2 separate regions of the Homo sapiens genome follow, and region 2 is linked to region 1. A link means that fine-mapping ties the variant in region 1 to the expression of a gene that starts in the linked region. Tissue or cell type: visceral fat. Region 1 holds a variant in brackets; the other region holds the start of a gene. All regions are shown on one strand. Distances are between the middles of the regions.

Region 1 (10,225 bases):
TCTCCAGTGAGATCCATTTTCCCTGCATCTGGTAAGTCTCATGCCATGTGTAAATGCTCACAGCTTGGTTTGCACCAGAAAAATTCTGTAGCTATAATGCAGTCCAGCTCCTTTACTTTTCTTTAAGAGTTTTTTAAAAAATTAGTTCTTCTTCCCAACTAGATGGATGTTGGAATCCATCTGATGGAATTTTTGCCAAATACTCACAGCATTTATCAAGTCCAGTGGCCTGAGGTTATGTGATACCTTAAGGACTTAGGAGAAAATAATTTTTTTTTCTGTCATGCAGTCCCTGGTGTTTGTCACAGGATAGTAAAAATGTCTCAATTGTTCATTTTTAGATAACAATCAACAGAGACAGTGGTGAAGATGTAAGCTCCCCCAAACACGGGAAGGAGGACCCAGACAACATGCCTCACGTGGGCGGCAACACTTGGGCTGGCGGAACAGGTTGGTAGCACAGGCATTCTCCTGAGTCAGCCTTCCCCAGGTTTCCCAAGCCCATTAGGCCAGCACATCGCCCCTGAGAAGACTCAGAGACGGGCTTTCCTTCTCAGCCTCCCTCATTACTCAGTTGGATTGTTGTCTTGCCCTCTGCCCCAGCGTGACATCAAGGCATGTGAAGAGCCTGGCATTTGGAGTCCCACAGGCTCTGCCACCCTGTGACCTAAGAACATGCTGACCCTCCTGGAGTTGCTTCATCAGTCAAAGGGGGATAGTGTGAACTACCTTAAATTGTGGTGAGGATTAAATGAGATTACGATTGTTAAGCACTGAGCACAGTGCCTGGCATGAAGAATATTTTCACTAAAGTGTTAATCCCTTCTTTTAAATTCCATGACCTTGGGATCATGCCAGAAATCCACAGTAAATTCTTTCTTCAGCAACTGACTGAAAAGAAATGGTCCTTGTCTTCCACATCTTCGAAGTACGTTGAGGATGCAAGATTTCGAGATAAGGCTGGTTGCAGTCTAAACCGATGGCCGACTCCTTCCTCTTGGCTGCCCAACTAGGGCATTGTTCCCAGGACTGCCGTCTTCCTTTTTCCTCTGCGGCAGCTGGAGCAGACACATCTGCGAGTCCACAGGAATAGGGCCAGACTGTGTGCGCACTGTCTGAGCTTATCTCACCATGAGGAGTGCTGGCAGGAGCTCTGTACTTCACCTTCCTTAGGATGGTCTGTGCCTCTTGGCCTTGACAGCCTCGGGAGGAAATGGGTTTCTCTGCTTAGACAATGTGCTATCAAATAGGCCTGTGGACTTCTTGCCTACTCTGTTTATTCATCAAGCATCAGCTTTAAAGTAAGGCTATTTTTAGAAATGTCCTTTGATCTGGAAGTTAGCGTCAAGCCAACAAGATTTAATCCATATGGAATGCATTGTGGGACGAGCTGGCCAGATGTGGTTTCCCAGCAGTGGACTACTCTGGGGGAGAAATTCCTATTTGTTACCAAACTTGAATTTACTAGCTCACGTATCTGTCCAGATTGAGGCTACATTTGTTTCACCTGGCTTTTAGTTTTCAATTGATCAAGGCTCCTTGGCTTCAATTTCTCTTTTTCTCTCTGCCATTCTTTTCCCTCAGAATTCTTTACTTTGAACTGAGCTCTGGCCCAACAAGTCATTTGATTCCCCTTTCTTCATCAATGCTCCTCCCTTGCCCACCCTCCCCATTATCTTCTGAAGTGGTTTGGAATGTCCAGGCTTATGCCCTGCAGTCTTAGAACCTCTGGTAAGCACTTTCATTTAAATAGTACAAATTAAAGGCTCTGGGAAGTGGAGATCATGAAGAGCACCTCCTGCTCCACCCCAGTGTGACTTTGCCTGGGGCCCTGCGACTCAGGTGGCCAGTCACTCACACCAGCTTCTGATGGTTCCACCACTTTCTCCCTTTCACCAGAATGATAACATCTCAGCACCTAGGAAGCTTTCAGCTCAAATTCATGATCCACCCATACTCAGGATACCCTCCTGTAGGAAAGGAGTTAGATCCCAGAAACACCTTTTCCTCCTATAGCTCATTGTCACTGTCCAGTTACTGTACCCCTCTGCCTATTGGCTGGCCATGAGTAAGAAATGGGAGTCACACACATCCCAGAAGGAATTTTCCACCACCCATTTCTAAATAAAAGTGAAATATGTTCCAATCAAAAGATTAAAGTAGTGTAATTAATAGGCAGTTCTCATGGTATTTCCCAAAAGGAAATGACCTACCTGGACTTTCATAAGGAAAGCAGTTCATATTGAGTTCTTGGTTTTAGTTTTGTTAGACCAGTTAAAGCTCAGTGGTAAGGTGGAGGTGGGGGTGGTGATGGTGAAAGAAAAATGTAACATAATTTACCCAAAGTCTAAAAGCCTTCAAATTTTCCACTTTATAAAACTAGAAATTGCCTAATTCTGTGTAACTAGGCTTTGTTTAATAATAATAGTAAAAGCAGTCCATTATATGGCTTTTATTATGTGCCAGATACTGCTCTAAGCATTTTAGCTTCATGACAATCCCATGAAGTAAATAATATTAGTATCCCCACTTTATAAAGAGGAGCCTGAGACACAGAGAAGTTAAGTAGTTCCCCAAAGATAAATGGCTGGTGGGTTGGAGCCAGGATTCAAACCCAGGCAGTCTGGTTTAACTATATCATAATATACTCTACAATAGCAGTGTATTATACTATACTGCCCCTCCAATATTGGATTCCCTTCTAAGTTCTCAAGTTATACGTGAATGAACAAAAGAAACAGGTTACTAGTATTCTAATCTACCCCTAAATAGGGGTAACAATCTTATAGCCCAAAGGCCAAATCTAGCCAACAGATGTGTTTTTTTCTCTGGTCCATGTAGTGTTTTAAAATAATTTCAATTTTCATGTATTTAGACAAGGTAAATCCTAAGTTAGCCAATGTCCCCACCACTTTTTATCATATGACCTACCTGGCCTTACAGGCATTTACAATATGAACAGTTCATACAATGTTATGTTATAAAACGTAATATGTATATGTAATATGTATTATGTAAACTTGAGTTTCTATTGAAAGACTGTTCTAAAGCTGATGGTGTTTATGTTATATATTGTTCAAACCAGAAGTCAAAGTTGGTGTAATAATTGGCTTCTAATCTTGGCTAAGCCAGTGATACGAGGTCCTGAATATGTCATTTAGCCTCTCTGTGCATTATTTTTATAATTTGCAGAACAGAAAAAAACAGTATTTATAGCTTAACTGTCTAGGTTTTTTAAGGAAAACTAAGGTAATATGTGAGGGAGGGAAACAGTTGTTCATTTAATTAGCAAATATATACTAAGTATCTATGATATTCAAACCACTCTTATAGGTGCGGTAGTGCAAAAGTAAATAAAATATCTCATCCATCATATAGTTGGTGAGAAAAATAAATATGAAAGGATAACAAATAGTACACAAGAGTATGGATCCTTATGAGGTAGCAGCATTAGCTAAGGTGTCATAGAAGCTGGAGTAAGCCTTGATATATAGGTAGTATTTTAATGGATGGGAAAAAGGAAAAGCATCCTAAACAAGAGAATACATCTTTTTCCAGAAGGTAATTTGACTGTTTAATTACTAGTTAAGTACAATTAATATCCTCCACAAGGCTGTCCTAAAACCATGACCCAACTTTTGTTCTGTGGTCAAGTTCAGATTTATCATCTGAATTTCCACGTTTTCCTTCCAGGGGGAAGAGACACGGCAGGCCTGGGTGGCAAAGGAGGCCCTTACCGGCTGGATGCAGGCCATACGGTGTACCAGGTCTCTCAGGCTGAGAAAGATGCAGTTCCCGAAGAGGTCAAGAGAGCTGCTAGAGAGATGGGCCAGAGAGCATTCCAGCAGAGGTCAGTGCTCCCATCACATTTAGACCAGCACTACTGCTATGGTGAAATGTCATGATGGACTGTGGGGAAACCTAGATTTGTGTGTGTTTCCACCTCCACCTCATGCAGCAACTCGGACCTCAAACTGAAATCCACAGCCATCCCCGTCCCTAACGGAAACAGCCAAATAAACAAAATCACCTGTTCTTTCTACTCAGGCTCCTTAAAATCTAAAGCTCAAATCGCCCCATCCATGTCTATCTGTTCCTAGGCAACATAGGGAATTCAGGTAAGTCTACACAATGGTCCCTTCCTGCCCTCAGAAATCTTGCAGATTAGTGCGGAGACAGGACAAGGGAACATACATACACACATGCACAGAGTTAAGTGCTAAAGTCATAGGGTGCGGAGGCTGTCCCCTCCAGCAGTGCAGAGAAAGGCAAGTTTAGTGGGCTGATGTGAGGTGGGGCCAGAGCTCAGCTAGGATTTAGAGATGGGAAGAGAAGAGCTAGGATATTTCAGAAAGGGAAAACTAAATGAGCAGAGGCACCAGGGCAGGATGAGCATAGTGTCTATGGAAGAGAGAGGCAGCTAGCCCACTCAGGATAATGGGTACCAGCTCGGGAGGAGGGACAGTGAGTTTGGATAGGGAGGCCTCATCAGTGAGTAGAGGCCTTAATCTAGGCCAGTGAGCCTGTGGCCCTCGGACATTCCCCAGCTGTTCTGGGCCACTACAATAGGAGCCATTTAAAAAATAAGAAGAATCCACATGATGTTACCCTAGACATCCACATGTGTGCTTCAACTAAAAGTGAAAAATACCAAAGAACCACCAGTATTTCCTTTTAGATTCCAGGACCTGGTAGTAGTTTGGGAAACAGATTTACATTTTTGTGCTGCATGAAAGGAGATGGGCGCAGTTAGAAAAAAGCATGCTAAA[A/G]TGTATGAGTTATGAAATTCCTCCCACGTAGAACATCTGGTATTACATTACATGCTGTGCTTCCACATCCTGCAAGTAAACAGTACAGGACAATAGAGACAAGAATGCAGGCCCTGCCGCCACACCCTCAGGAAAGCCTGCCAGCTCAGACCCTCGAGGGTTCAGCAGGTAAATAACACACTTGATGCTAGAGGCAAGAGTGTTGCTCTCAGCCCTTCTGCTGGCTTCCCTGGTGACTGTTGACAGTTTATCTGTCCTCTTTGTGCCTGAATTTGCTCTTCTGGAAATAAAATTCACTCTCCCTTTCTCCCAGGGAGGTTATGAGAACAGGTAACTATGTTAGGAATGAAAGTGTTTATGCCTCTCAAAAAAGGGTAGAGAATAGTGTAGTGAACAGTCTTGTTAGAATGAAAGTTCTCTGCATTTCTTATGAATTATAAAGTACCCATTTAGAAAAAGAACTAAACAATTGGAAATGTGTCATTCTCCCCTCCGCAATTAATGAGTTCTGTTGTTGCCACCCTTAAAACCTGCCAAGTAATTGTTCAGTCTAATTTTTTGCCCAAGTGGACAGGTAGATAAGAGTGTTCTGGCACACACATAGTTCACAGGGAGGCAGAAAGGTAACAGTGCCTGGCCACAAGTATGTACGCCCTTCTCCTGTTGCCATAATAGGAGTAAGGAGTGTGGTTCTCTTCAGGACAATTGCCCTACAGGGGAAGAAGTAAGGGGCATCTGTGCCCTTAACGCAAATGAATTTAGCGGATGTAAGAGAGGAAAGAGAGGACATGGGGAAGGGATGAGGAAAATGTACACCTCTAGTAAATGCTGCAGAGAAGAGTCTCAGTTGAAGTAAAAGAGAATACCGTAAGGTGGTTGAAAGACAGAGGAGTTGGCCAAGCGTGTGAGAAAGGAGAGAAAGAAATAGAAACACATGGAGATCCTGAGAAAGATGGGGCACAGCAAAACACCAAGAGAAAGATGTTGCTTTCTACTTTCATGTAGAAATGGGACTTTCATCCCATTTGGTGAATATTTCATTTAATGCTGCTGAAAATTTTTCAACCTTTTACTAGGAACTTTTCAAACATAAAAGTTGAGAGGAACATATAATGAATGCGATGGACCCGACCCCCCAACTTCAAGAGGAAAACTCTGGCTCTACTCCTAGTCTTCTCTGCTGGCTTGTTTTGAAGCTAATCCAAGACTTCTATCATTTCATTGTCAATATTTCCAAGTGTATCTGCATAATATAAAAACAAAAAAATACAAACTCACAATACTATTATTAAGTCTTTAAAAAGTAATAATTCCTCGCTATCATCAAATAATAGGTTTTAAAACGGTTTTGCCACTTAGGCATATGCAGAATGAGGTCGGTTCCCACCATTGATGCTTTTATGGCATCCTGTACCTTTTCTCCACAACTCTTATCACTCTTTCCCGTTATGTGATTTGTGTGAATAATTGGTTGTCTCTCCTCTGACTGTAAGTTCCTGGGGGGCAGGCATCCATCTGTTTTGTGCTCTAGTATAACCCCAGGACCTACACCAAGAACCTGGTATGTAGCAAACCTTCATATGTATTTGTGGAATGAATGACACACACGTGCATACAAGTAATGGAATCATCCTTTAGTACTTAATTCAGAGACTGGCTGAAACTAGGCAGTCCTAGCTGTGAGCCAGAAAGTTTGTGTAGTGCCTTGGAGAGCCTAATGCTGCTAAGTGGGTTCCTGACATCATCAACACAGCATTTTGATAGCATCTGTTTATATCTGGTTTTAAGCTAGATACCAGCCCTTACATATCAAGAATGTATTAACTCAGGCAGACTAACAGAGAGAGACAAGCATAAAACATGAATAAAATAGAACAGAAACATTATACCAGTGAAAAGCAAATGAAATAGACAATGAGGTACATGTACACACTTAGAAAAGCGTCTAGGGTAGGCACCAGCTGTGGAGATTGCATCCACTACCATTTGCAAAACTAATCAGCCTCACACAGTGGATCTAAGCTTATGTTTGTTTTCCTTATAATTGATTCAAAATTATAGTATTTAAGTGTGACCTATAAGAAAAAGTAAAATGAGAACTAAAATTCCCAGACTCTTACGTAACAATAAATATAACCTTTAAAAATATACTGTGCCAACAAAATGCAGTTAGTCCACAAAGATTACTAGGATGTGAAGCAGCTGTGCCCTGCAGTTTTGATCAGGGTTAAAGAAGCAGAAAGATATGTTTCCAGCTAGTTTTGTGGGCCTGAGAGTATTAGCAATGGGTACCTCATTTGATCCAGAGGCTAAAATTTCTTTTCTTTCTACATCCCTTGCTTCAGTCATCATCTTTCAAAATTTATCAGCTTTGATTGCCTTGTAGGTGATCTTTCTGAAAACCGACACAATCTGGAATATGGTTTCCAGATTTCTTCATAATTAAAACAGCATGTGGTGTGTTTTGGGTGCAACATGATCGCACCAGTGGTAGGCCTATAACTGAAGCTAATTCTGATCACTCTGCAAAGATCAGTCTGCTCGAGGTGGCTTACCAAATGGCTAGCTCCTTCCTTGATATGTTTGTGTGTATGTATGTACATATGTGTTTTTATGTGTGTATATAGGTTTGTATTTGTGTATACACCTACAACCCATACCTCCAACATTGCATGTGTGTGTGCGTGCACACACACACACACACAGTAGTTTAGAAGATTGTGTTGTGGTTAGGCTTTTGAGACGTATGTTCATTATTCCCTGTCCTAATATCAGTACCTTTTATATTTATAGAAGTATATGGCATATTACCTAACATATAATGGATGCTGAAAATGAATTGAATGGCTGAAATAAAAATACAACTCAGGATTATTTAAAATGCAGCATCTTAAACTAACTGTAAGTAGAAAGTTCATTTGCTGGGTGACCTCTCTTGGGTTTTACAGAGTCGTATCCATAATGCGCTAATTTAATCACATATTTCTATATATTCTCTCCTCCATCCCCTCCCCACCCCACAGACAGCTGTGTCTACATTTGTTTCTAATCAGTGCTAATCTCACTTATTTGAGAAGAAGCATATTGACATATAAACACACACCGGTTTAGGTATGAAGGGGTAGGTGGCATGTCCTGCATTGTTCATTGTGCCCAGCTTCTGTCAGCCTTGATACTTGAGACATAACTTAATCTAATAAAAAGTCATAGAGAGATTTCAGAGACTGCCAGAAACTAAATACAAGAGGTATTGTCAGGAGGTCAAGTTCTATACACATATTTCTTTTTATTCTTCAGGACTGAGAGTTAATTAGATTTAGAAAGGCACCTTGGCATGTCACCTCAAGATACAACCATTCAGATATTATAGTGGCCTTGTCTGTATTTACCTTTTAATAGTCACTGTTTTCAAAGTGCCATCCAGCAGCACTTATTGAGTGCCACTGTGTGCCAGGCAGGTATTGTGGTAGGTACTGGAAGTTCAGTGGAAAAATAGAACATGGTCCTTCTCCCTGAGGAATAGAATAGAAAACATCAGAGTACATCCCATGTAATAAAAGTATTTTTCATTAAATTTTTGGTTCAGTTATCCTATATACATACATGCATTTGTGTATACAAGATCTCAATGTAAAACATTTCCTACTATGGAAAGAAAAATTTGAAAACACCATAACAGAGGGCAACAGGCCTATCTATTAAAGCAATAAAGTATGCGAGTTTCATGGTAGATGTCTGTATAGGGCACATGAAAAGGGAATGGCCAGCTTTATGCAAGGGCTCAAGCAAGACTTCAAAGGATGTGGACTTTGAGCTAGATCTTGAAACCTAAGTGGGTATTATCCAGTGGGGTGATAGGGCAGGAATGTCAGTCTGCCCCATGGTAGTCTAGGCCTAGCATTACATAATTGTAATAAGCCTCTGGCGCTCTCCCCCATGGTGAATGGATTTTTCCCAGTGCTCAACCTGACAGGGAGGAATACAGAACATTTATTCTCATTCAGTATTTGAGGTTTCTGTTTTAGCTCAAGGTGATAAAAAATACACATTAGATAAGAGTTTCAGCAATACACCTAGGATTCATATCTCCAACATTGCATGCATATACATAACACACTAGTTTAGAAGATTATGCTATGCTTGGGCTTTTGAGATATGCACTTATTATTCCTTGTCCTAATATCAGTACCTTTTATATTTATAGTAATTTATAGAAATGTATTATTAAGTTAATGTATTATGGATACAACACTGTAAAACCCAAGGGAGTTCACTCTGAACTTTCTACTGACGGTTTAAGATGCTGCATTTTAAGTAATGCTGAGTTGTATTTTTATTTCAGTCATTCATTTCTACTTATTTTGAGCACCCATTATATGTTAGGTTCCATGCTAGGCACTGTAAAGATAAAGATGAGAAAGACTCAGCCCTTACCTAAAGGAGTATAGAGCCTAGTTGGGGAGACAGGAGGCAGATAGTTACAGCATGGAGAGCAAATTCTCTGAGGGAGGAATGAAGTGAGATAAGAGCACAGAAGAAAGACCCGGGGATCAGAGCAGACTTCCTGGAGGAGGCAATCATTGACTTGAGTCTTGAAGAGTAAGTGGGAGTTATTAGGCAAAGTCAGGGGAGGGACACTCCAAGTGGGAGAGAAGCACTTGCAGGGCATGTGATGTGTACGGGGAGCTTCTAGTGTGCTGGTGGGGCTTCAGTGAAGCAAATGATAAAAACTGATAAAAAGGAGCAGCATACTGGGAAGATAGAATTTCAAAGCCACAATAATATTAAAATACAATTGTCCTGTTTAAATTACACTGTCAGCAATTTTAGAAAACTCTCACATAGGGATACATAGCAGCACATTAACTTACATTCTTTAGGCTTGAACTGTTATCTTGGTCAACCAAATACATGATCTCGATCTTAAAAAGCAACCCATGGGAACCCTCTTAGGAATCTGCCACATGAACTGATCGGCTGCAAACATCACAATATGGCTTTGGGATATAGCAATGGTGTGTACCACAAAGCCAATTCATACTGGCTCATGAGAGTCAATTGTGCACATTTTTTTCCAACTCACTGTTCATAGCTTGTAACTGATCATGGTGGCAATGTTTACATCATGGAAATCAGCAAACACTACAAATCTAGGACTTTTTTCTTGTCCTAGTTTGTTAACCATTTACTAGCACACTACTGGATGTTACCTCCTTTGAATCTGGAAGCACAGCTGGAGACATCACTTCTTGCCTTTTCTCCTCAACATGAATCTGAGTTTCCAAGGAGTTTGCTAAAGTTCCAGCAGGAGGCGAATGGAAGTAAAAACCCACATATACGTGATTTAAGCTGTTAACTTTTTATACTCTTCTGATTTCAGGCTAAAGGAGATCCAAATGAGTGAATACGATGCTGCAACCTATGAAAGGTTTTCAGGTGCTGTTCGGCGACAGGTG
Region 2 (10,225 bases), 150 kb after region 1:
AGATTTCAAGGTAGGCAAAGCCGGACATCCTGTTCTTTTCCCTCCCCTGGAACTCTATTCCTTGCAAAAGTAATAGCCAGTTAGTCTGATTAAATGACAGCAATGTGTTGCTGGCTGATCACATATTCATGTATTATTGCCCCGCGTGGGTATCAGGTGCTGCTATTAATAGGGGCTCGAAGGACCTAGAACAGTGATAATTTGGGGAACCCTGGCAGGTGGTAAGGCTGGATATTTGAGGGCCTTACAATATCGGCTTCAATCAGCTCTAAAGCACCATCTCACATGTATCTCAAATTCCCATTAGAAACATCCCTGGCAAGTCTAGTTAGTGTACTGAAGTCAGGAACCTCAAATTCTGGGACCGTGTTTTCTAAGGCACCATCAAAAGAAAGAAAAGCATATGAAATATACAACTAACAGAGTCTGAGAAACACTGCTGCAAAATAGAGGCTTGTTTAAAAGGTAGGTGTGTTTTTTTAGCTAGGGGGGTTGGGAGAAAGGTAATTTAGGGTTAGCGCATGTCAACGTGCTGCTCCAGGGGGAAGTAAAACCACAGACAGTAAACCTTACCCAAGGCTCCTGTAAATATAGAACGATCCCACACGTTTAAAGCAAGCAAACTATAGTAATTAACCAAGAAAAAGAAAGCTTTGGACCTACCTCCCTTTTGCCACAGGGAATGGCTGGGGGTGTGGGTTGACTTCTCCTCCTGAAAATCTAAATTCTGATAGCCTCGCCAAAGGGGGGCAAAATAAGAAAGAGCATCTTTCCTCAACTTCTCCACTGTTGTCCCAGCTCCCTTTCTGGGATCGCACTGTCCCTCTATATGCCTTGCCAAGCATCACAAGATCCATTACCCATGCAGAATTGCTAACACAGTACCAGGGAACCCTGAAGGCTCCTCATTGGCCTTATTCTCTCATGGCTTGAACAAGTTCAGGTTCTACCTCAGTGGCTTCTAAGCCACATAAGCCATCTGTCATGCTGGTTCTCCAGGGCCCACAAGGTCCCCTCTCCCAGGGCCAGGCCAGAATAGCCTAAGCAAAGATATGCAGGTGTTCTAAGTCTTGCTGATGCTAAAGAAGCCAGTTCCTCATTTCCTAAATGGTCCTACAATATCATAATAACCCTAGCATACACAGTAGACTTCAGACCTTTTCTGTTGAGCAGCAAAACACTCCCCCGTCAAAGGAAAAATTATGTGAAACCCCAATACCTTAAAGGTATAAGTGCATACCACCTTTTAAAGTTTAAGTTAATATTATAAACTTCTTATAAAGTCAACACACTGGTTAAAACTTGAAACATAATGAGTTAAAATTCCATTTAACACATTTGAGAAAACATGGTTTACCTTTTACAGTTTTAAAAATACTGAAAAGAAGATATATTTCTAAAAATAAATTCAAACCAAAGGTAGTCAATTTCTAAAGCACCTCTGAGGATGAAGTTTGAGAAACACTACCCTAACTCTTAATTGCATTGCCCTTTCACTACTGAAGTTAAAATCACTCCCACTAAAGTGCCTGATTTTTTTACATGTTGGAATCAAGTCTAAACGAAAGTAACAACACTATTTTGATCAACCACATTTGAACTCCACACCCCCCACCCCACCATGTGAAGTTATACTGCAATTGTTATTTTGGTCCTCTTCATGTCTTAAGAGGCCTCCCTGAAAGTGGGAACAGGAAGGAATATTTCCTTATTAAATATCTGTTCTTCTTTCCTATCTGAGTAACTTGTTTCTTTCAGTACGAGGAATGGCTATTTTTTGCCTTTGGGTGCAAGCAACCTAAATTTTTTTTAATGATAATAAAGAAGTATTCTTCAAAGAACAGGCTTGCTGTTTGATCTTCCTTGTAAGGTTGGTGCACCTTCAGACAGAGCTGTAAAAACTAGAGCAAAAAACAAAGGTAACATTGGTTTACATATTCATCCAAAATATTTTCATGCGAGACACTGGCTCCAATGTATCTATATGGTATAGCACAGCATGTACATTGTAATGATATTTTGAAAGTATTCAACAGAGCAAATATTTTCTCCCTAATAGCACTATTAAATAGCATCCTTTCAATTTCACAGCTAGAGAAACTAAATCCCACTCATCACCCAGGGCCTTGACAAGGCTCAATCTAAGCTCTACTGACCCTGCCAGATGACCACCACCTCAAAGAGACACCTTCATAAACAGCCATCATTGACAAACAGGCATGTGATCTGGGCTCAAAAGGACTTCAGTCTATTCGTGAAGACATGGTTCCCATTCCAGCTAATAAATCATCATCATCATCATAACAAGCGTTTGCTAAAAGTGAGCTGCTGTTATTATCCTTATCCTGGTGTGTCTCCCTCTTGATGAGCTAAATTTCAGTAGTATCTACCTCTCTTAAGCATTCTCTCCCATAGAAAAGCATTAAACAGACAAACGAGGATAACAAATGTCTGTACTCAATTCTTGGCAGCAATTAAGATATACATATTATGCTTCCTTAAGAAATTACTATTTAGATACACACAGCTTCTGCCAACAATATTTCTGACTAGCCTTGTGAGAGAAAAACTACACATTTAAAGCAAAGACAAATGTCATCTGAGCTTTCTTTATGTTCTTCCCATCACTTCTCTAACCACCAAACTAAGGGTTAGTCCGTTAACAACAAAAGCAGAAAACAGACACATATAACCTAAGCAAAACTACAAACTATCCCAACTATCTCCCCTGAAACTGTTAAGAATGTGTTTCTATGTCTTCTCTTTAAGGCATCTGAAAACAGATTCTAGATCTGAAATCCCACCCAGTGGAAGTTGCAATCAGCCATGAATGGGCGCGCTCAGACCTATTCTAGTAGAGTGAGGCTGTTGCTTAGAAAGGAGCTGTTCTTTGCCACAGAGCAGCAGCGACACACTATCCTAGCTTTCTTTTCCATGCGAGAATCTGTATTTGATGAATAACTTGCTCCATGCCCCAGTAGGAGGAGACATATTTAAGTTTGGCCTTTAGAATTGAGACAAATTTCAAAAATGTTAACACTTTGCTTTGAAATTGAAAATGAACCTATTCATTAAGAACAAAGTCCAAAAATTCTAAGTGGAAAAGTAACAGTACTTTCTTCCATCCCCTTTCACCTCAAAAGCTGCAGCTTGGTCTAACTCTTTGGCAGTGCTGCCAAGGAAACAAGCTGGAACTCAGCTTCCTGAGTCAAACCCTGACCAGGGTGGTGAGCGCATTTATCCCTTTGCAGAAGGGCAGCTCATGTTCATGTCTAGCCCCGAATCTTAGCCCAGGAACAAGGAAGAGCTCCAGGTTTCAAAATAAGAGAATCACACGGAAAGGCCATTACTTTCACGTCCTGAGTCAAGGGCAGCAAAAGGAGTGACATTCATGCCTGTAACCCATCTAAGGATTAAAGGCTGAAGAATAACACAGAAGAGTTTAAAATTGACTTTGCCCTTTGAAAAACAATAAGCAATTCTGGATTTGAAACCAACAATCATGTAATATTAAAAAGGCACCTAATTTGCTGTTTGAGGTACCTGTAATCCTCCCAGGACATGTGAGTTCCTGGAAAAAGCTGTCTCTTTTGTTGTTTTTGTTGTTGTTGCTGTTGTTGACAAAGTTGTTCAGGACAAAGAGACCCTGGGGTAGTCTCCATTGTGAGAAAGATCACCAGGAACCACCTTCATGCCCATGTGCTCTCTGGCTCCCCCTCCAGCCTGGTGGAGGACCTGGCTGAAAAATACTTGAACTCAGCAGTGCCAAAGATTTTCATAACTGCATGCAATGGAGCAACAAGTCTGAGAGCTAAGGGCCAGAAGACAATGCAAGCAGTTATTTCATAAATCCCAAGAACAGCAGTTTGGGCTTATGAAACCTTTCCTGGTTTCATGAATATTTCCGTTCTGCGCCCTCCCATGTCCCCACTGTGCCCCCTCATTCCACTGGCACTTGTTCCACATCTGCAAAGTTACAGCTGAGAGGGGAGAGGCACGGAAAGGAGAAGAGGAGGGAAACTGCGGAAAGGCCTGGTGCAGGTCCAGGGAGTCCTGTCTGGCTGAGTCGGGACAAGCTGCTTAAACTCGCCTGCCTGGTGACACACCCGTGGGCGGCAAGTGAACCAACCTGCCCTCCAGCGACCTTTCCCGTGATTATCGTCAGGGGCCCCGCCACCACTCGGCCTACTGCGTTGAGCTTCAGGAAACCATTCCTCAGTTTACTGATAAGAAAACTGAGGCCGCAGCCTTCGCGGGGCAGGTCCTGGGAGCTGGGAGATCCCGGCGCCATCCTAGCGGGGGCCGCACTTACTCTCCGAGTCGCTGAAGCCGCTGCTGTCGCTGACACTGGCGCTGCTGCGCCGCTTCATGCGCTCCAGGTGCTCCTCGTAGTGGAAGTGGCGCTCGTGGAAGGGCGACGCGAAGTCGGCCAGCACCGCGTCAAACTCGCACAGCGCGTCCGACAGGTCCTCCGCGGCCGCCGAGTCCAGGGCCGGGGCTGCGGGCAGGGCCAGGGGCTCAGTGCACGGAAGTCAGGGGGGCAGCGGGACCACCTCCCAGGGCCAGGAGGGGCCGCCACGGTTCCCGAAGATAACTGACACTTGGCGCCTCTGCCAAGTGACAGCCACGCAGTCGCTGTTACCTTGTAATCTTCTCCACCACCCCCGAAGTGCGTTCTATTACCAAGTCCGTTTTACAGACAAGAAAACTGAGCCTTCGCCAGGCCCAGGGTCACCCAGCGACTTGGCGCGGCCAGATTCCTCCCCAGGCGCTGCCGGTTACCTGTCCCCGCCGCTCCCCCCAACCCCGGGCGCGCGCGGAGCTGGTGGTGGAGGGAAGGTGGGACATGGGGGCCAGCCCGGGCCGGAAAGGAGGCTGCAGCCGCCCGCGCGGGAAGACCGGGGACAGGTTCCCGCCGGGGAGGATGGAAGGGTGGGGGGTGTGAAGGGACGACACGGGGCCCCTCCTTTCTCACCCGCCATCTGCAGAGCCGAGACTTTAAGGGGACCCCGGACCCCGCACTCACCTGCGGCCGCGGCGGCCGCGGGGCTGCCCTGCGCCGCGGGCGGCTTCATGAGGCGGCTCAGCTGGGCCCGGCGCGCGTGGCCTTGGGTCCTGCGAGGTGGCAGCCGGGGCTATTCGGGGGCTTGCTGTCCCGCACACTTCAGCCCTGCCAGTCCCTTCGGCGCTGCGCTCCAGCCGCGCCGCTCCCAGCACGGTCCGCGCCCGCCCTACCACCGGCTCGGGTTCCTAGATCTTATAGCCTTCGGCGGCCGGAGCGGAGGCGGGGCCGGGGCGGGGCTGCGGAGCCGGGGCGACGGGTCTGTCCCCGCCGCCCTCCGAGGAGGCCCCTGCCCCCAGGCACCGCCCTCGCCACGCGCCCGCCCTGGAACCGCGGTGACGAGGAGTCGCCGAAGCCCCGGTTACAGCCCCAAATATTTACCCGCCTCTCGCCCCCGCGCCCTGACAACCCGGCCCACGCGGTGTCCTCGGCGTCACCAGAGCTGACTGCTGGGCGCGAGCTCTGCTGCTTCCCGCCGCGTGCCAGGCACCTCCGCGAGCCGCAGCTTCCTCGGCTGTGAAGTGGACGTGGGCATGCAGAGCCTCCCTGGCTGGCGGTGAGGGACGAAGGAGCCCGCGGCCGTGTCCCAGTCGGGTGTCGGGGACGCGGAGGTCCCCTACGCATTGTCCCAAGGGGACTTCCGAGATGGTGGGCGGGCGGAGTGGAGAGGGTCGGGGCGAGAGGGGCAGGAGTTGGGGGAGTCCTGAACTGTTCCCACCGCGGAGCGCGGGGGCCTGAACTACGGTCCAGGGCGCTCCCGCCAGCCTGACTTTATCTAGAAGGGGTTTATTATGGGAAGAAACTACTGCGTCGACGCAGCGCGAACAGGGCGCCTTGCAGTGTCCACGGAGTAACGAGCCACCCTGCCCCGCGGCCTGCGGGGGCGAACGCCCTGGACTGTGCGCTGAGCTAGGCGCTAGCCTCTCGCCTCTCACCACAGACGGCTAATTAAATGTAGAGCAATTAACATGTAACGGAGTGAAACATTCAGCCTCCACTCCCAGCTAGTTTTTGTATTTTTAGCAGAGACGGGGTTTGTCCATGTTGGCCAGGCTGGTCTCGAACTCCCGACCTCAGGTGATCTGCCCACCTCAGCCTCCCAAAGTGCTGGGATTACAGGCGTGAGCCACCGCACCCAGCCAGGATTTGTTTTCAGAATATAGAAAGACCCATCTACAAAGTAATCACAAATAGACAACCTGGTAAAAATTAAAAATGAGCAAAACATTGAAACATACACCTCACAAAGGAGTATATGTTAATGACCACTAATCATATGAATAGTCCTCCTCTCTTGTCTACTCTGGGTGGCCTAGGGATATGCTTGTCTTGTGGAGGCACAAGCACTGTGGGCTCAAGAGTGGGGAGCCTCTTTCCCTGTTAAGGGGAGGACACCACTGGGATCTCTGGTGCCATCTCCTGCAATGGATCCTCTGATGTGGGGTCGAACAGAACTTCAGGAGTTGATTTCCCTGGGTGAGTGGAGCGGGATCCTTCCTTAGCTATCTGTCCCTTTGCTACTAGTATTGCTGCTGCATGCCCTCAGCCACTGTGGGGGTTCTAGCACCAGCTGTCACCAAGTGTCTATGTATGGGAACTGGTCTAGGTATCTTTACCAGTTACCTTGTGCCACGCCTTAGAAACAAGGGACCTGTCCAGGCTTCCTTCTGATGGCCAACCCACTTCTAATGGTGCGCAATCTATTTCCCACAAGGTTCTAAGTTCCCCTGGTGGTCTAGTGCTTAGGATTCGGTGCTCTCACCGCTGCTGCCTGCGTTCGATTCCCGGTCAGGGAACAAAGAAATGGAGCATGGATGAGCAGCGGACAAAACCCCTCAGACAGCGGATTAAAGAAGGAAGAGTTTTTTTTATTCCGCTGGGAGCTTCGGCAGACTCGCGTCTTAAGAGCCGAGCTCCCGGAAGGAAGACAGAGTTCCTGGCCCGTTTAAGGGCTTACAGCTTTAAGGGGTTCCACGTGAAAGGGTCTTGATGGATTGAGAGCACATGTACTTAGAGTCACGGGGGTTGATTGTTTCACCTCAGGCCGGCTCCTCATTGCCACCGGCTGGTCTTGACACTGACTTCATTCCTGTTGTTTTCCAACTTTTACTTCCTCCTCCTCTTCAGAGACAGGAGACAGTAGCGAAATGGCTTCTCTCCTCAGGGCGACAGGATGATATTACTCCCAATATCACAGGGGGTGTACACACCCCTATGAAACTCTTCCTACTATCCAGAGGGAGAGAGGATGATATTACTCCCAATAGCGCAGGGGGTGTACACAGCCCTGTAATACTCTTCCTAAAATCCACAGGGAGAGAGAATGATATTACTCCCAATATCGCAGGGGGAGTACACAACCCTGTGATATTGTTCCTAATATCCAGAGCGAAAGAGGATGATATGACTCTCAGTATTGCAGGGGGTGTACACCCTCCTGTAATATTTTTCTTAATACCCTGGGAGGGAGAGGATAAGATTACATTGAATATCACAGGGAATGTACACTCTCCCCCCTCTGATACCCTTCCTAATATCCAGGGGAAGAGAGGATAATTTTCCTCCCAATATCGCCGAGGCAGTACACCCCCTCCCCATGATATTGTTCCTAATATCTAAGGGAGGAGAGGATGATGCTTCTCCCAATAAAGCAGTGGGTGTACATTACCCCTGTGTTATTGTCTGTAATATCCGGGGCGCGGGGGGTGCAGGGGAGAGGATAAGATTCCCTCAAATTTGGCAGGTGGTTTGACACCCCATGTGGTATTGTTTTTAATATCCAGTGGGGAAGACAATAATACTACTCTCAATATCACAAGAAATGTACATCCCCCTGTGATATTGCTACTAATATCCAGGGATAGAGAGAATGATGTTACTCCCAATATCGTCAAAGTGTCCACCCCCCCCTTTGATATTGTTCTTAATATATGGAAGGCAAGTATGATATGACTCCCAATAAGAAAGGGGGAATACACGCCCCTGTGATATTGTTCCCAGTATGCTGTGGAGGAGAGAATGATATTACCCCCAATATCGCAGGATGTGTACACCCCCCTGTGATCTTGTTCATAAGGTTCAATAGAAAAGATAATCTTACTGGAAATATCGTAAATACACTGTGTGTCCACAGTGGCTGCTAACATGCAGGGAGGGACGGAGGTTGATATTACTCTGCGCATCAGCGGGGGCTGTCCACACGCCTTCGATGTGGCTCCTAATATCCATGGGGAAGGGGGGGTAGATATTACTCCCCGCATCACTGGGGGTGTCCATCCCCTGCCATGTGGCTTGTAATGTCAGGAGGGGCTGATATTTCTCCCCGCGTCGCGAGCGTCGCCCGCCCCCCTGCGATGTGTATCGTAATAGCCAGGGAAGGAGAGGGGCGTGATATTACTCCCCGCATCGTGGCGGAGTCTATCACCGGTCGGGATACTATACACCCCCTGGGATATTGGGAGTACACCCCCTATGATATTGGGAGTAATATCATACTCTTACCCCCGAGTATTAGGAACAATATCATGGAGGGAGTGTTCACCCCCTGCCATACTGTGAGTTATGTCATTTTCTCTACCCGTGGACATTAGAAACAATATCACAGGGGTGGTGTCCAACCCCTGCGAAATTGGGTGATATATCTTCCTCTCCACCTTTGGATATTAGGGACAATATCACAGGGGAGGTCTACACCTTCTGGATTATTGGGATTAATACCATCCTCTCCCAGCCTGGATATTAGCAACAAGATCACAGAAGGAATGTACACCCAGTGCGATATTTGGAGTAATGCCATCGTCTACCCCTGACTATTCGGAACAACATCACAGAGGGGTGTACATTTTCTGCGATATTGTGAGGAATGTCGCAATATTACTTATCGCAATTAATAACATCAATTATTGATTGATATTAATAACATCAATTATTGATTGATATTAAAACATCAATTATTGATTGATATTAATAATATCAATATTAATAACTGATATTTTTAAATCAATACCGATAATCATAATTTCTATTACATAGTTCTACCAATGATAAAAATAAATTATTAATATTAATTATTAATAACACCTGATATTAATAACTGATACTGATCTTATTCATTAGAAAACAGTAATATTAGCTCCTAATAATATTAATATTAATAATCTGAAAACTTTTTATTAGCAATTATTTCTTAATATTAATATTGGTAATTCATATTCATGTTAATAATCAAGGTGTAATAATTCATACTAATATTACTCCTAATACCGCAGTGGGTGTACACCCACCTGTGATACTGTTCCTAATGTCCACGGAAAGGAGAGAGCATGATATTACTTTCAATATCACAGTAGGTGTACACCCACCCGGTTATATTGATCCGAATATAACATCCAGGGGGTGGAGTATGACGTTACTCCCAATATAGCAGTGGGTGTACATCCACCCGGTGATATTGCTCCTAATATTCACGGAAGAAGAGAATGCTATTACTCGCAGTATCGCAGGAAATATACAACCCTTCTGTGATATTGTTCCTAATATCCGGAGGGGGAGAGGGTGATATGAGTCCCAATATCGCAGGCTGTGGACACCCACCCTGTGATATTGTTCCTAATTGCCAGGATGGGGGAGGACGATATGACTCCCCATACAGCAGGAGGTGTACACCCACCCTGGGATATTATTCCCAATATCCATGGAGATGAGAGGCTGATATGACTCCCAATATCTGAGTGGGTGTACATCCATTCTGTGATATTGTTCTTCATAGTCAAAGGCGGAGATGTTGATATTACTCCCAATATCACAGAAAGTGTACAAACCCATGTGATACTGTTCCTACTATCCAGAAGATGAAAAGATGATATTACCTCCCATATCGCAGGAGTTGTACACCTACTCTGTGACATTTTTCCTAATATGCAGGGCAGGACAGGATAATATTCTTCTTAATAGCACAGGGTGTGTACAGCCACCCTGTGATATTGCCCTTAAGACTGCAAGTCAGAGAGGATGATATTACTCACAAAACCGCAGAAAGTGTACACCACCCCAGTAATATTTTTTCCATGATCCAGGACAGAAGAGGATGACATTACTTTCAATATCACATGGGGTGGACAAGCCCCCAGTGATGTTGTTCCTAATTTCAAAGTGGGAGAGGAT

Which allele goes with the higher level. Alleles are on the strand shown, and positions count from the first base shown. SD is a standard deviation of normalised expression in the study named.
For the expression in visceral fat of the gene that starts at base 5,233 in region 2, allele G in region 1 goes with a higher level than allele A (moderate effect, 0.47 SD a copy in GTEx).

What was found. PIP is the estimated chance that this variant, and not a neighbour inherited with it, causes the effect.
Region 2: it holds the start of RGCC, and the variant in region 1 is fine-mapped to the expression of RGCC in visceral fat (GTEx, PIP above 0.99). The same link has a PIP of 0.9 or more in breast and subcutaneous fat.

Annotation. Positions count from the first base shown.
Region 1 is chr13:41,605,201-41,615,425 of GRCh38, reverse strand. It overlaps VWA8 (von Willebrand factor A domain containing 8), which reads left to right. Exons shown (of 45, transcript NM_015058.2): 38 at 342-450; 39 at 3,694-3,850; 40 at 10,150-10,225. Among named protein-coding and RNA genes, the nearest start is that of MIR5006, 42 kb to the right of the region's middle. RefSeq lists an enhancer at 20-1,012. The variant A/G (reference allele first, on the strand shown) is at 4,770.
Region 2 is chr13:41,452,558-41,462,782 of GRCh38, reverse strand. RGCC (regulator of cell cycle) reads right to left here and starts at 5,233. Exons shown (of 5, transcript NM_014059.3): 1 at 5,027-5,233; 2 at 4,313-4,498. The coding sequence starts at 5,075. RefSeq lists enhancers at 844-943, 4,191-4,320, 4,370-5,047 and a silencer at 4,621-5,460.